Linked DNA regions of Homo sapiens: regions 2 and 3 are each linked to region 1. The links come from fine-mapping of genetic effects on gene expression. A gene starts in region 1. Each other region holds a variant in brackets. All regions are shown on one strand. Distances are between the middles of the regions. Region 1 holds the start of C6orf163 (chromosome 6 open reading frame 163). Region 2 overlaps CFAP206 (cilia and flagella associated protein 206). Region 3 overlaps GJB7 (gap junction protein beta 7).

What was found. PIP is the estimated chance that this variant, and not a neighbour inherited with it, causes the effect.
Region 2: its variant is the best candidate, but not a certain one, in a credible set for the expression of C6orf163 in whole blood (TOPMed, PIP 0.50).
Region 3: its variant is the best candidate, but not a certain one, in a credible set for the expression of C6orf163 in testis (GTEx, PIP 0.61).

Annotation. Positions count from the first base shown.
Region 1 is chr6:87,341,513-87,347,360 of GRCh38, forward strand. C6orf163 (chromosome 6 open reading frame 163) reads left to right here and starts at 3,301. Exons shown (of 5, transcript NM_001010868.3): 1 at 3,301-3,735. The coding sequence starts at 3,588. It overlaps SMIM8 (small integral membrane protein 8), which reads left to right. Exons shown (of 4, transcript NM_001042493.3): 4 at 1-817.
Region 2 is chr6:87,410,469-87,416,316 of GRCh38, forward strand. CFAP206 (cilia and flagella associated protein 206) reads left to right here. Exons shown (of 13, transcript NM_001031743.3): 3 at 117-200; 4 at 3,342-3,432; 5 at 5,218-5,406. Among named protein-coding and RNA genes, the nearest start is that of CFAP206, 5.4 kb to the left of the region's middle. The variant A/G (reference allele first, on the strand shown) is at 2,693.
Region 3 is chr6:87,314,712-87,320,559 of GRCh38, forward strand. The region is part of intron 2 of GJB7 (gap junction protein beta 7); the gene reads right to left. Among named protein-coding and RNA genes, the nearest start is that of SMIM8, 5.0 kb to the right of the region's middle. The variant A/T (reference allele first, on the strand shown) is at 3,045.

The sequences.
Region 1 (5,848 bases):
ATCATTGTCATTGGGCCTCAGTAGTAAATCTTACCTCTGAAGTCTTGCTTCAGTCGCTATTAATATTACCAAGTAATAATAACAGCACAGGCAGAGTTTATCATAATGTTATTTTTAATTTGTCATACTTTATTATGGTTTTGTAAGGTACATGAAAATGTAATTATGTGTGATTTGTAGGTATTAAAGAACTTAGCTAATTGAATTTACATGAAACTAAATAAAATCTTTACTACTGAGCCCCAAATATGTATTTGCTATGCCTGTCTGTATAATGTACTTCATATAGTTTAAAATGCACTTCAGTGATACAAAATCCCTTTTAAAGACTCTTTTGTTTTTGTTTTCCCTGTGTATTTTGGCTATCACAAAACTAGGGTTCTTCTGTTTTTAACTTATGCATTTAATGACACATTGCCATCTTTTAGAATTTTTTACTATTCAACAGAATAAGCTGATGTTTGGTGGCAGAGGAGTTATTAGTTGCGTGAACTGTCAAGAGATTGCAGTGCAGGAGGGCAACAGAAACTGTACAAGGTGCAGACTTGAGTCATGTAAGATCTATGTGAATGAACCAAAGTAACTAGAGTCAGTCAAGCACAAAGCTGTGAAAAGTAGTGTGTGGAAAGAATCATACTGAATTTTAGGAACAAGTACCTGACTATGATACTTTTTACAGAGTGACTACAAGTTGTAGGACAGTCTTTGTGTGTGCTGAGTGTCAACAGCTGCCTGCCTATGTGTTGATGTTTTCATCCTTTCTTTGTTGAATGAGGGTATAACCATCAAAAATAAAATACCTTTCAAATAGTCCAAAGATTCTGAACATTGAACTTCACCTGATCCAATCCTGTCAGTTTATGGTTAAGACAATAGGCTGAGAATGGCTAAGAGATTTACCAAAGATCAGGGAGATTCTCAGTCAGGAGTAGAACCTGTATCTTCTTGCTCTAAAGTCTAGGGATCTTTTCACCATACTATACCACCTTCTATGTGTAAATGTGCACATAATAATAAAGCAGCCACATTAGCCCTTAAAAATAAGAAGTTTAGATCTTAAGTAGAGAAACACTCCTGTACTTTAAAACAGAATTATGTAAAGGACTGTTAACTGCCAGCTCCCTCACAAGACCATCAGAACAACCTGATGATCAAACAAAACTAAGCTTATTAAATCTACTGCACTAAAGGGAAATACCACTTTTACAAAGTTAGCTGTATTTAAGAATGGGATGGTCAGGGGAAGATATTAAAGTCTTTTGGAAGTCTGAGTTCAAGTGATTAAAGAAGGGTCTTTCAATGCAGGAATCTGGTTGAGAATGGGCAAGGTACCTGACAGAACAGATTAGATCTTGAAGCAAGTCTTGATTAGTAAACTATTGTTCAATAAATGTTAAGTGAACTCTTTGCCCAGGGGAGTAGTCTAATCTTCTGATGGAAGAGCTGTTTGCCTAGATCAGCAAGCTGTCCAATTGATAAATTGTTTTTCAAGGATTTCCTAAGGCAAACACTGAAAGTATTTATTGGTTTTACAGCCTTATCTTCCATAGGAGGCCCAACTCTTCCAATTTGCCAGACACTAAGGAAGTTCAGGACTTTCAGTTTTAAAACAGGGACAGTCCCAGGCAAATCAAGGCCAGTTAGTTATCCTTCCATCTGGGCAAGAATTTCTAGTAACAGATAGGAAAGTTATTGGCACAAGTAGCCTCAGTTCTCAATCCAGATAATTAACTGTGTGGATGCAGTAATCCTCATTCTTCATACTAATTCATCTCTTTGTTTTTAATTCCTCTCCAAGTCCCAGTTAACCCTTTTCTTGAAGTCAAATCTGGCACAATTTGATAGTTACTTAAGGTCTTCAGCCAGTTATCAGGCCGTATGTGTTAATATAAATTATAGAGTAACTTGTGGTACACTTAGCTCAGGGCCCTATGGGAGTCCTGTTGTTGAAATTAATTTCACTGATGGCACTCACTTATTATAAAATAGTCCTGCCAAGTAGATGCAGCATATGACATTGTCAGGCAATTTTATAAATTCAGTTACTTGGTACAATCAGTTGCACAGATTTTTGCGATAGGTGGAATTTCTATGGCTGTTTATCTAAAATTATAGGAACAAATTAGTTAACCATGTGATTTTTAAAACCAGGCTTAGTAATTTTGAATGCTGCCTTAATGAAAGTAATTTCTTCTTCAAGATACCATGATATTTCCCAGTTTTATTACCATGGCACCAACACATCATGTTTATTAAAAACCTAAAAGAAATTAAGCTACCTCCATTGCTGGCCTTAAAAGAAATTAATTCTTTAAAAACTAATTTAAAACAAAGTGTGGTAGGCTGACTAATGCTCTCCTTCCCTGCAAAAATGTCCAGATCCTAATCTCTGGAACCTGTAAATATGGGACTTTACGGATATGGGTAAGTTTAGGATTTTGAGATGGGGAGATTATCCTGGATTATCTAGATGGGGCTGGTATAATCACCAAGGTCTTTAAAGCACGGCAGAAGATCAGAGGAAGAGACAATGTCACTATGGAAGCACTGGGGGAAAAGGCTATATGATGCAAGGCCATGACCCCAAGGAATATGGATGGCCTTTAGAAGCTGGAAAAGGCAAGCAAACACATTCTCCTCTGAAGCCTGCAGAAGGAACCAGCCCTTCTAACAACTTGATTTTAGCCCCTAAGACTCATTTTAGACTTCTGATCTCCAGAAATGCAAGAGGATAAATTTGTGTTACATTTAAACTATGAAGTTTGTGTAGTTTGTCACAGTGGTGCTATGGTTTGAATATTTGTCCCCTGCAAAACTCATGTTGAACTTTAATCCCCAACGTGGTAGTATTGAGAAGTGGGGCCTTTAAGGGGTGAGTGAATTCATTCATGGGTTAAGGGATTGATGGATTATCATGGGAGGAGAACTGGTGGTTTTATAAGAAGAGGAAGAGAGGCCTGAGCTAGCATGTGAGCTCAGCCCCTGGCCATGTCATACCCTATACCACCTCAGGAATCTTCAGTGAGTTCCCACCACCAAGAAGATTCTTACCTGATGCAACTCCTCCACCTTGGACTTCTCAGCCTCCATAAACTGTAAGAAATAATTTCATTTTCTTTATAAGCTATCCAGTTTCAGGTATTCTATTATAAGCAACAGAAAACAGAGTAAGACAGCAGCAATAGGAAACTAATATAGAAAGTATCAGGAAAATGAATGGCTGTATCATGCTCCCTTTTGTCATTATTTGAAGTTGCTTTTATGAGCAAAGCTTGTCTTACCTAGCAACAGTTGCCAAGTAAGTTAACAACTTAATGCTAGAGTCTGGGAAGGAGCAACTACTTAAATCTTCCCAAATCTGGTGCCCATACCTTCTATGGCAGGGGCTTTTAGCACCATTCTTTAACGTTAGACACATAACCACAGCCTAATCACTTGAACCATTTAATCCTTACCAGCCTCTAGCATTATCCTAAAACCCTGAACCTCTTCCAGCTTTCTTAAACTTTCAGCTTTTCTTGAAACGACTTTTTCTGATTCTAAGATTATTTTAACTGTAAGTAGGAGAAGACATCTGAAATTTAACTATGATCAGAAATTCAGATTACAAAAACTTTGTTTGCTGTGCTGTTTGTAATAAAATAATTCCACCAGCCCCTTTTGGAAAAACCTTCAAACGGATCCATGAATACAAGCCACTTAAGACACGCTTTTACACTCACAAAGACATACTAGGTAAGTGACTTTATCGTTTTCCTTTGTTCTAATGCTTCATAGCCTTATGTGTCATTCTTTCTGTTACATAGACTTTTATCAGCTTTTTTCTCTTCAGAGTTGCTTGTCCCTACAGGGATATTTGAGGAGAATATGGGTTGGAATACAGCTTCTCCACTTACAGTTGTATGTATTGGGCAGGGTATTTAGCCTCTCAATCTGTTTCCTTATGTGGAAATAAATATACTAATACCTATCTTACAGGTTGTTATGAGACTTTAATGAAGTATTTGTATCTATTATAAATCCTGGCACATAATAGTAAATGTGAGTTCATTTTGCCCTTGGCCATACTTGAGCACCTTTCAGTATGTGTAGGAGAGGAAATATTATCTCTAAATAACACCCTAATTGGATGGGCACAGTGGCTCACACCTGTAATCCCAGCACTTTGGGTGGTCGAGGTGGGCAGATCACTTGAGGCCAAGAGTTCAAGACCAGCCTGGCCAACATGGCGAAACCCCGTCTCTACTAAAAAAATTTAAGCAGGCATGGTGGCATGCGCCTGTAATCCCAGCTACTCGGGAGGCTGAGGTAAGAAAATTGCTTGAACCCAGGAGGTGGAGGTTGCAGTGAGCTGAGATCGTGCTACTGCACTCTAGCCTGGGTGACAGAGCGAGACTCTGCCTCAAAAAAAAAAAAAAAAAAAAAAAATTTTAAAGTACCCTAATAAATGGGTAAAAGAAACTATATAACCTTTAAATAGTAGCTGGTAGCATAAAAGTAGATACATATAGATAACATGAGGACGTTTACTGTACATACGTATGTATATATAATAAGCAAATCAAATTGTACTATAGGTTTCCATCTCTCTTTTATCCCCGTAAGAGTTTTCAGTCTGACCTTGAGCCTTGTAGGTATTTTCCTAAGAACTCTCACAATACTTCTCTGATCCTCTCTTCCTTTAAAATGGTAAACTAAGGGTGATTTCATTTCACTCCTGATATTTGAAAATATAAGAAGCTGGAGAGCAGAGGTGTTTGGAAAAAAAAACTAAAATGTAGGGGGAGATCAAATTGGAATCATCTTCTAAAAACATCAATTCCAAAATTGTTTCTTAGCATTTAGTAAGTGCTTAGTATGAATGATTCATTATGATCTCTAAAGTGACTTTTCATACCCAGGACAGTGTATCTCCATTCTTAGATATACCTTAATGATTGATTCCTTATGCCTTATGGAATATCTAACCCAAACCTTAAGTGGATAAGTTAAATCTATTGTTAGAAATTAATCTTTTCTATTCAGTGACCTTTGTCATTGAACTGTTTTAAGTTAAAAAAGAAAGAAAGTTGAAATTGTCTGTTCTTTATAAGCATTTTGAAATGTCCGTAGAAGAGCTAGTGAGTATTTCATAGGACGATAGTTCTCAATCCTGGCAGTGCACTATATAGAACTTTGAAAAAAAATATTAATACAGATATCCAAACACAGACCCACTGGATTTAATACTAATCTAACACAGAGCCACTAAATTAGGACCTCTACGGTCAGGACTAAGCATGTGTATTTTTTCCTTCACGTTTAAATAACCTTTTTTATTTCAAGATAGTTTAAGACTCACAAGTTGCAAAATAGATCAGAGTTCCCCTGTACCCTTCATCCAGCTTCCATTGATATCTTACATAATCCTGGCACTTTGTCAAAGCTGGAACACTGGCATTGAAACAATACTATTAACTCAGGTACAGACCTTATGTACACTTTTTTCCCCCGGCATAGAGTTTTATGAAATTTATCATGTGTGTATATTAATGTGCCATCACCACAATCACAACATGGAGCTGTTCCATCACCACAAAGGAACTCCCTCGTGTTACCCCTTAGCTGTCACTCTCTTCTCCCCAAACTTGAACCCCTGACAACCACTAATCTGTTCTCTATCACTATAATTTTATCACTGAGAATGCTATCTAAAGAATCATAGATTATGTAACCCATTGAGATTGGCTTTCTTCACTCAGCACAATGCCCTTGAGATTCATCCAAGTTGTTTATCAATAGTTTGTTCCTTTTACAGTATGTGCATTTTTAAAAAAAGCTTTGCAGGGATCCTGTTGTACAATCAGGG
Region 2 (5,848 bases), 69 kb after region 1:
AACGTAATCAAGAGGTAGTTGTTTAAAAAATGGAAACATATTAAGCTAATAATATGAAATAAAATTGCTTAATGGATTCTTTCCTAGTTAATGGACTCGTTCCTACTTTTTTCTAGGTGAAAGCTGTTGTCCTGGATCCAAGTAATGGCTTTAACATGGATAGAACCCTCATGAAAAGTGATGTGCAGAATCTTGTTAAGGTGATTACCCAACAGTCCTCAAATTTGCAATTACTTATTCTCAGTTGTAAATACAATATTTGTATTAGTCATTATTGCCTTCAGCTGCATGAAACAAAAGCCCACAAAATAGTAGTATACACGAGATATTTTTCTCATAACACAAAATCTGGAGAGACATAGACCATTCTTCCTGGCTTCCTGGGGCACACCATCCTTGCAATATGGTCATCTGGTGGTCAAAAGATAGCTACCCTGCCTCTAGGCAGAAAGAAGGGGGAAAGACAAAGGGCAAAATATGTGTGCCAATTGGGTCTATCACCTTCTATCCAGAAAATAATAATTTTCCCAGAATCCCTCCCATCTACTTAACATTTATTGACCAGAATGATATTGTAAGTGACCCAGGGACATTTCACTTCTTTTTTCTTTCTTAGATGAATAAATCCTTGCCCCAATCCAAATTGAGGCTCTGTTAGTAAGGAAGGAAGGGCAGGGAAATTGGGCAGGTAGCAGCATCTGCTACAGTATTTTAGTGAAACCTTGTTACTAATGTCTTACATTGCAAACATTAACTAGTTCGTCATATACTGTGAAGTTAAATAGAACTAAATTAATTTGCATTTCTCTAATGCTGAGTGATGTTGAGCATTTTTTTCATGCTTTTTGGCGATTTGTATGTCTTCTTTTGAAAAATATCTATTCATGGCCTTTGCCCACTTTATAATGGGGTTATTTGTTGTTGTCGAGTTGTTTGAGTTCCTCGTAGATCCTGAATATTAGTCCTTTGTCAGATGCATAGTTTGTACATATTTTCTCCCATTCTGCAGGCTGTCTTTTCACTCTGTTGATTATTCATTTTGATGTGTAGAAGCTTTTTAGTTTATTTAAATCCAATTTGTCTATTTCTGTTGCATTTACTTTTAAGTCATGAATTCTTTGCGTAGGCCAATGCCCAGCCCCCTAGGTTTTTTTCTGTTATTTTTATAGTTTCAGGTCTTACATTTAAGTCTTTAATCAATCTTGAGTTGTTAATTTTTGTATATGGTGAGACATTGGGATGGGTTTCATTCTTCTGCATATGGTAATCCAATTTTCCCAGCACCATTTATTGAATAGGATGTCATTTCTCCAGTGTATGTTTCTGTTGACTTTGTCAAAGATCACCTGACTGCAGGTATGTGGCTTTGTGTCTGGATTTTCTATTCTGACAATGAGATACAATCTTACACCAGTTAGAATATCTTTAAAAAGTAAAAACATAACAGATATTGGTGAGGATGCAGAGAAAAGATGGTATAAAGCTTGTTCTTAGCAATAGGGGAAGTGATTGTGGCAGTCAGAAATTTTATTGGAAAGCCGTGGAAGAGAATCCAGGAGGGGCAGAAAATAAGTTGTTCTCCTTGTCATGACCCAAGAAGAGTTTTCCATTCCCCCCAATTCCCCAACTCAACTAAGTTGGAAAGAATCAAGCCAATATACTTTTAGTACGACAGGTACATAAACTAACAACATATGTTATATTCAAGTGACAATTTTTTTCTCAACTAAAAATCATGTGGATGAGCTATTTTTTTAAGTGTGCATTTTAGAACAGTACTTCTGTATGTGGAGGGATCCAGGTGCACAGGCTTCTGCAAAGACATAGTGTCCAATCCTCAGTCTTGCATTCTCCCCTCCCTCCTCCCAGGAAAGCAGGGCTGGTGCTCAGGGAGATGGGTTGAGAGTGATGCTGCCAAGTGCCTGCCAGCTGCAGTATATTCAGCCTACAGAGTGAGCAGTGAAGGAAGTGGGGGAGGGAGGTGACCAGTAGAGATGAGAGAAGGAAAGAAAAACTGAGGTTGATATTCAATATAAAGAGGCAAGGCAGAGAAGGGGAATGAGCCATCTATGTGGGGGCTCATAGGAGAAAACAGACCAGGAGAAGAAATATCAAGGGTAGAACCAGAGAAATTTTGTGAAGAGAGGGGGGTGGTTGCAGCAGCTTTTTAATTTTAATTTAATTTAATTTAATTATATTTTATTTTTTGAGACAGAGTCTCGCTCTGTCCCCCAAGCTGGGGTGCGGTGGCATGATCTTGGCTCATTGCCATGTCCACCTCCCGGGTTCTCAAGCGATTCTCCTGTCTCAGCCTCCCGAGTAGCTGGGACTACAGGTGTGTGCCACCATGCCTGGCTAATTGTTGTATTTTTAGTAGAGACGGGTTTCACCATGTTGACCAGGCTGGTCTCGAACTCCTGACATCGGGTGATCTGCCCACCTCTGCCTCCCAAAATGCTGGGATTACGGGTGTGAGCCACTGCACCAGCTGCAGCAGCTTTTTATAAAATAAAATGAGGAGTGTTGTTCAAGGCACAAATAAATAGTAATGAGGAACTCTAGAAGAGTTTTAGACTGGAATATAAGCTTTGTGGAACATTTACCCACATTTAGACTGCTCAAACTAACCAAAACATCAGGTTTCTTGCCTTCAACTAGACTACTAGCCACCTGGCATGATGATTATTGGTTA[A/G]CTCAAGGGAAATAACTTATTACTTAACAAATGTTATTGGTAGTAAAGATATGGAATCAACCTAAGTGTCCATCAACAGATGATTGGATAAAGAAAATGTATACACACATACACACAATGGAGTTTTATTGAGCCATAAAAAATAATGAAATCATGTCTTGTGGCAACATGGATGGAACTGGAGGCTACTATCTTAAGTGAAATAACTCAGAAAGTAAAATACCACATGTTCTCACTTATAAGTGGGAGCTCAATAATATGTACCCAGGGACATAGAGAGTGGAACAGTAGACATTGAAGACTTGGGAGGGTGAGAGGGGAGCGAGGGATAAGAAATCACTTAATGGGTACAATGTCCACTATTCAGGTGTTAGCTACCCTAAAAGCCCAGGCTTCACCACTACACGCAATATATCCATGTAACAAAATGACACTTGTACCCCCTAAATCTATAAAAATAAAAAAAGTTATTGGTTAAATAAACTATAAAGCCTGAAGTCCTCAAGGAGAAAAAAAAAATAAAAGGGGTTATTGGTGAATCAATATCAGGAACCACTGCTTTTCCCTTTATTTTTGAAAATAACTTTAGGAAATACTTGACTGTCTCAAAAACTATAACTAGAAGTATTCATGGGACATTCTTTTCTAGCTTTGTATGACTCGGCTATTGGATACTAAAAATCCATCCCTGGACACTATTAAGATGCAAGTCTACTTCGATATGAATTATACGAATCGAGGTAATGTATACTACCTATTTTTATACTTAAAAAATTTCATACTGTGTTTCAGCTAAGAAGGGCTTCATTTGGTTGACAATGAATTTAATTGTTTAATCAATTTAACAATTTAATTTTTGGCAATCAACTTTGAGGAATACAACGTTAGAAATGCTAAATGAAAAAAAACCATTGGCCTTTGTGAGTGTTAAAAGTGAATTCCAATTATTGTGCTCATAATTATTGTTTCCAGTGGCACTAATACATAATAATTAGGAATTCAGCCCATTGAAGTTAAAAGTTTTTAATTTATAGATTTTCTTGTTCCTGGTTTATGTTATTATCTCATTATAATTACCTAAATTATGTAACTATTCAAAAATGAACGATGGGGAGTTTAAGTTTAGAAAACGTTTCAATATGTAAATTTTTTTTGAGACAGAGTCTTGCTCTGTCACCCAGGCAGGAGTGCAGTGGCACGATCCACAGATCACTGCAACCTCTGACTCCCATGTTGAAGCAATTCTCCCACCTCAGCCACCCGAGTAGCTGGGACTATAGGTGTGTGCCACCATGCCCAGCTAATTTTTGTATTCTTAGTAGAGACGGGATTTCACCATGTTGCCCAGGCTGGTGTCGAAATCCAGGCCTCAAGCGATCTGTCTACGCCTTAGACTCCCAAAGTGCTGGGATTATCAGTGTGAGCCACCATGCCTGGCTCATTATGTAAATAATTTAATGCATACATCAAAGACAAGTTGGAAACAAAAGAAAAAGGAAAATGTAATTCTCTATGGACTGCCTCTGCACCTGCTATATAAAACAAGTCTATTTCTCTATGGACTACCTCTACCTCTACTGTATAGTACAATCATTATTAACAATTTGGTGATGTTTCTCTTTGTTAGTTTCAGTTATGCTACCTATGTAAAAGTATATATCTTGCGTTTTTGCTTAATAGTGAAATTTTAAAGCAAGAAATAGTCATATAATTGATAAAATTTAACCTATAGATTTTTAAATTTGTTATTTAAACATATTTTTAATTTGCAAAAAGTTCTCAGTTGGTTTTGTGGCAAGGGTATAGGTATAAACTGTGCGTGGTGGATATGTTAATTATTGACCTTGTAATAGTAATATGGGTTGTCTTATAGAGTCATTGCAGAATTGTACTTGCAACAACTCAGGGAACATAGTGTCCTGCCAAAGTGAAGCCTGTCCCTCAGCATATCACAGGAGGAATGAGGAGGGATACAGTTCTCGATGCAACATCGTATTATCAATAATGCTTTTCAGAGGAAATTTATCTAGAACTGAAATAAAAATACACGTAACCGAAAGGAACATATATACTACATATATATTTCTGCTACTATATATGCTTATGTATAGTATACTACATGTGCTTACATATAGCATAAATATATAATATGTATATATTTATTTTTTCATATAGTATTAAAATTAAAATATATAATATATATTTTGTAGAAATGGTCTTCTTTATTTTCTGCTTAATTGGGAGGTTTTAGCCTTTTCTGATATCTCCTGTTTAGTTTGGCTGTTTAAAGTCTTAGGTGTTTTGACAAAGTATTCCATTTAAGTCACTGTAATAAATCTTCCCTCCTGGATTTTTGTCTTGAGGCTACATGCTGGCCACTGTTTTTTATTTCATTATTACAGCTTAAGAAATTACTTGTTTTCCTGAAGTAGAATTGCCATATCCAATCCAGTTTTTCTCTAGTTCTTACGTAAGAAGAATTCTAAAAATTAAATATATAGAACATTGTTATTTGGCAATTTTAGTGGAATTTCTCGAAGAACATCACCGGGTCCTAGAGTCTAGATTAGGCTCTGTTACCCGAGAAATTACAGATAACAGAGCATGTGCTAAAGAAGAATTGGAAAGCCTCTACCGGAAGATTATCAGCTATGTGTTACTCCGCTCTGGCCTTGGATCCCCTACAGACATCAAGACTGTCAGAGAGGTAACAGGTAAAAAGTATAACCAATTTCCATTTCATAAGTGAAAATATATGGTCATTGTATTTTATAAAACATGTTAAATTAGAAGTGTTAAAGATTGAAGTTCCCTTTTTATCTGAAAAAAAAAAAAAAATCAGCACAAATGAGTTAAAATGTACCCAGTCTCCTTTTACACTGTGTATCCATTCTAAAACTCAAGTAGCACCTCTAGAAAGTGAAATATTGCTAATTTTCCTAGAGCTGTACATATCTAGGCACCTATTACACCCCATTAGAGAAACATTGATAGTAGGATTGAGGGTACCAGGCTGATTGAGTAAATGGAAAAGCTGAAAACGGATATTTCATATTGATGAAAGAAATTGAGTCTGTCATTTAAAATGGGTGATGGAATGGGGCACCATTTTATCCTTAGGAAGTCTTTGCCCTCTTTCATCCTTTAAAATGAGGA
Region 3 (5,848 bases), 27 kb before region 1:
ACCTCCTTACTTAACATCTCCCTAGTCTACTCAACATTCTTTCAATTAATATTTCTGGAACTCTTTAATATATCTGGGAATCCAGCTGTAAGCAAAACTTAACGCATTTAGGAATGGAGCTTGCATGGAGCTCCATGGAACTTTCCTGGGGCATCCACGCCTTCACAGAACTGACATTCTAATGGAGAAGAGAAACAATAAAGAAATAAATCATATGATGTCAGGAAATAATAAACTTTTTTTAGGTAACTCAGGAATCTCTCTTGTGCACTCAGAGACGATAGCTCTCTCATGTGTACTCAGAGCAAAGATAGGCCCAGCTATCTTTCCACTCTGGCCCCCTCATTTAATTAGCCACCATTGGAAGAAAGCATCTCTTTTCCACAAAAATGTGGCAAAAGCACCACTCAGTGGAAAAGAGTTGTTTTCTGGATGCTGCTTTTCAGGAGCATATTCCCCGCCGACCCCTTGTGTGAAGTGGGCGTCTGCTGATTTCATCTTCCTAGCATCTGTTTCCCAACCCAACTGGTGGGGAACTGCACCTCCACAATTATGATAATGTGACCTTAACCCTGGCCTGTCCAGCAATGATATCTTTCCTCCTGTCCAAAGCAATTTGTCCTGAAAAAGGGCACAAACCCAAACAAGGCCAAAAGAGTTGTTCCATGAGATTTGATATATGGGTGATAGGGAAGGCTTCCTTTCCACTTGGATGTATTTTAACAGGATAGAAACCTGGAGCTGCCAGCAGGGATGTGCCCAATATATGAAATGAGTGTATTTAAGAAACAGAATAGAGGCCAGGTACGGTGGCTCACACCTGTAATCCCAGAACGTTGGGTGGCCAAGGCGGGTGGATCACCTGAGGTCAGGAGTTCAAGACCAGCCTGGCCAACATGGCAAAACCCCATCTCTACTAAACATACCAAAAAAAATTAGCAGGGCATAGTGGGGTGTGCCTGTAGTTACTATTGCTTGGGAGGCTGAGGCATGAGAATCACTTGAACCTGGGAGGTGGAGGTTGCAGTGAGCCAAGATCACACCACTGCACTCTAGCCTGGGCAGCAGAGTAAGACTCTATCTCAAAAAAAAAAAAAAAAAAAAAGAAAGAAAGAAAGAAACAGAATGGAGACATGAGACAAGACATTCCTGTTGACATGTTTGGATGTCCCATATCTCACTGCTGAAATCTGTTCCCTCCATAGACTTCCCATTACATATGGTAACATAACTCCTTTTGAACTTGAGTTAGTTTCAGTCAAGTTTCTGTCATTTGCAACTGAAATAACAGGTGTGTGCTGAGTCTTCAAGACCCTATATTCAACAAATTCTCTCTTCAGCTTCTTCCTGATCACCATCCCTTTAGGGGATCAGATTTGTTTTCAGTTGGCCAAGGAACAAGAAAACTTGCTGTTCTCAATTTCTTCTGTATACATGAGCTGATGCGCAGATATCTTCCCTCCCACTTAAGCAAGAAGGAAATGATCGCCTTTCCTATCAACTCCTATGCTAGTCACTAGATATTTTGAATGGGTGGGGGTAGAAGTTGCTGGATCCATGTGCCCAATCTCTGCAAGAGCTCAGGATTGTCCTGCTCTAGTCCCCTCCTCATAAAATTATTTCTGTTTCTTAGCCTTTTCTTTTTCTTGCATAGCTCCAGTTCTTCTCCAAAAGTCAGCTCCCAGAGAATACAATTCCTACACACCAAGCAGGGCTGAGCTATGGGAGTGATGCCTCCCCTGATTATCCTTGTGAAGGATAAGTAGGAGTGAGGCAAAGGGCAGGTGTAGGAAAGAGTGTTCCATCAGGAAGTGTGAAGCCAAACAGTGACATGATTAGATGTATATTTTAGAAAGGAGGACAACAGCTTGTAGGGGAGCTTGGCTGGTGGCAAAGCCACTGGGGCATTAATCTTCTTAATCATCTTGACTCCTTTGGCTTTCAAAACACTCCACTTTTGATCTTCCTCACTCTGTTTTGACCATTTCTTCTCAAACCCTTTTGTGGTCTCCTGCTGTACTCATTCCCTAAACGTGGATGCATCTGAGCCTTCCTGGACTGGCCCCATCTGTTTCTCCAGTGTCATTTCTCTCATGTTCCATTTTATTATCCATTCTTTAGCAATAAGAAACACACCGCACCACACTATATGGCTTCATGCTTTGAGGTTTGTGTTCATTCTGTCTCCTCTGACCTGAAACATCCTTTCTAACTTCTTTGCCTTGCTTATCACTTTGATTGTGATTCTGGGCTCAGTCATCAGCCACATACCATCCTCTGTGTTATATCCAGGCCAAACAACATATAATTCTCTGTGCTTCCATAGAATCTTGTGCAAATCACTTTATATTGAAAGTATCTGGCTGGGCGTGGTGGCTCATGCCTGTAATCTCAGCACTTTGGGAGGCTGAGGTGGATGGATCAGTTTAGATCAGGAGTTCAAGACCAGCCTGGCCAACAGGGTGAGACCCTGTCTCTACTAAAAATACAAAAAAAAAAAAAATTAGCCGGGCATGATGGCACACGCCTATAACTCCAGATACTCAGGAGGCTGAGGTACAAGAATTGCTTGAGCCTGGGAGGCAGAGATTGCAGTGAGTTAAGATTGCGGCACTGTACTCTAGCCTGGGCGACAAAGCAAGACCCTGTCTCAAACAAACAAACAAACAACAAGAAATTATCTGTTTTAATTTGTCTCCCTCACTAATCTTTAATCTTTTCCTTTTTTTTTTTTTGAGACGGAGTTTCGCTCTTGTTGCCCAAGCTGGAGTGCAATGGCGTGATCTCAGCTCACTGCAACCTCCGCCTCCCGGGTTCAAGCAATTCTCCTGCCTCAGCCTCCCAAGTAGCTGGGATTACGGGCACGCGCCACCATGCCCAGTTAATTTTTTGTATTTTTAGTAGAAATGGGGTTTCATCATTTTAGCCAGGCTGGTCTTGAACTCCTGACCTCAGGTGATCTGCCCGCCTCAGCCTCCCAAAGTGCTGGGATTACAGGCGTGAGCCATGGTGGCCAGCCTCCCTCACTAATCTTTAAGAGTTTT[A/T]AGGGCAAAGATTATGTCTTAATCATCTTTGAATTCCTGGTGCCCAGGAAAGCATGTGGCACACTGAATGCACCAAAAATTTTCCTGCTAACCTGAGCCTAACTACACTGATAATAAACTTATGCTTTTTTCAAAAGAAGAACAGTTAGAATTAAAATGTTTTCATCTCATATCACTTTTAAGGTACTTTAAGACTTTAAATAATATAGAATAAATTATTATTATTTCTAATATTTCAAAATGTGAGAGAAGTAAATACAAAATGACCTGACATGAAAAGTATTAAAAACAGTTCTGCTAAAATTATATGGAAGAAAAAGAGTAATGAATTGTGATCCTCTAATAATATCAGTTCCCCATTCTATTTTTTTTTTTTTTTACTAATTTATATATCACACCATTTGATAGATTTCATTTTCTTCCCAGGTCAGACATTCCTGTGATGCCAGACAGCTATACAGTTTTCAAAAATAGCAAGATGTTTGTCCTTCTTACAAGCACCACTAGAAAACAGACTGCTCCTTAAGCTATCAGGCAAATACTCTTTGATCCCAGGGAATTTACAATGGAGGGCATATTATCAGTTTCTATTGGCACCATAATTCTGCACAACAACGAACTGAACCTCAATGTGGCAAACAAAAATACACATATTTAAGTTCATGAATCTGCAGAGTTCAGCTGATCTGGGCAGGCTTGACTGACCTCACTCAAGGCTTGCACACCTGTCTGGTCAATCTACAGTGGCTTCAGTTGGAATGACTAGGATGACTTGGCTTTGCTCTGTATGTTTTTCATCTCCAGCAGGCTAGCTGGAGTATGTTTACCAGTTCAGGTGTTTTTCCAGCTTATTTTGTGTGACATTTGCTAATATCATATTAGCAAAAATAAATCACAAGGGTGACCCCCCAGAGTCAGAGTGGGAGAGCATGGATAAAGGTGGGGACACAGGGAGGGGTGAAGAATTAGGAAGATTTTTTCAAATTACCAAAACGTGTAATTTTTTCATTTGTCAGCTAATAATTCATTCAAGGGAGTCAGATATCCTTGGCTCACATTGATCATATCAACTACTTTGGCTTGGCTTTCTGGTAGGAAAAGAAATAAGTGCCAGCATTTATGTTATTATTTTTTAAAAAAAGACCTGGCTTTGACAAAATACCAGTAATGTATGATTTTTATTAAATATTGTCAACCAACTATTCTTGCCTGAATTTTAAAAAGCGCTAGTGGCATCAGTGGTCCCTTGAGAAGGCTCCCAGACCACCAGTGTTGTTCCCAGAGCACACTTTGGGAACCCCAGATTAAAATAGATATCATTGGTCCCTTTGAATGTGTTTTCATACAGATTAATCTTTGCTTTATGCAATCCCATCAAATACAAAATCTCCTGGAAATATTATTAAATATTGATGGCCCTGCTCAAAATGAAGATTACAAAAGCCGAATCAGATTGGCATCACTCTTCAAAGTAATTTCTTAAAAGCAGCATAAAATGGAATGAATTATAAACAAAAATGACTAAACACGTCCTATCATTCACATTGTATTCATATCCATGAAATGGGCAAGGCCTTCAGGCTTTTCTCTGTTATCTTTACCTACAGCTTGTGCTCTTTTCTTACACATGCTTATGTTTCTTGTATTCTTTCATCTGATCACTTTCTATTGATCATGACAGTAAAAGTACTTTGTTTCCATAGTGATATTTGACATGTTACAGATCACTGAGAACCCTAAGGGATAAGAAAAAAGTTTGGGTCTGCTTAGGATGCAACATAATAATATTTTATAGCCTTCCAATTGTTTTTAGCTACTGCAGTAACAGCTTTTTAATTGAAATTTAACTTATTTTGTCAGAAGATTGCCTTGTAATACCAGTTGTCAATGAACTTTTAAAAATTAAACCTCAAGCCAGGTATATACCTAAAAGAAAGGAAATCAACACATCAAAAAGATATCTGCTCTCCCATGTTTACTGCAGCACTATTCACAATAACCCAATTTAGATGCAATCTAAGTGTCCATCGACAGATAAATGGATAAAGAAAATGTGGTACATATACACAACAGAGTACTATTCAGCCATAAAAAACAATTTGCAACCACATAGATGGAACCGGAGGACATTATTTTCAGTGAAATAAGCCAGGCACAGGAAGACAAACTTTGCATGTTCTCACTTATTTGTGGGAGATACAAATTAAAACAAAAGAACTCATGAAAATAGAGTAGAATGATGGTTACCAGAGGCTGGGAAGGGTAGTGGGGATGGGGGGAGTGGGAAATGGGGATTTTTAGCGGGTACAAAAGTATAGTCAGATAAAATGAATAAGATCTAGTATTTGATAGCACAACACGGTGACTACAGTCAGCAATAGTTGATTGTACATTTAAAAATAACTAAGGGTATAATTGGAATGTTTGTAACATAAATGATAAATCCTCGATGTGGTGGATACCCCATTTACCCTGATGTGATTATTATTCATTGTATGCTTGTACCAAAATATCTCATGTACCCCATAAATACATACACATAAATATTAAAAATTTTTAAAAATTAAACCTCAAATCAAATGTGAAGTTAATTTGGCTTGGGAGAAAAAGTTTTAAATTCGAAACATATTTACCAAAGCTTTACATAAACCCATGCCAAAATATTGGTACCTTCTATTCCAACTATTCTGTTCATTTTAATATAACTTGTGTAAACCAGAAAGTCTATGAGATAGGTCTCAATCAATTTAGAGGTTTATTTCACCAATGTTAAGGACCATGGCCTGTGACACAGCCTCAGGCAG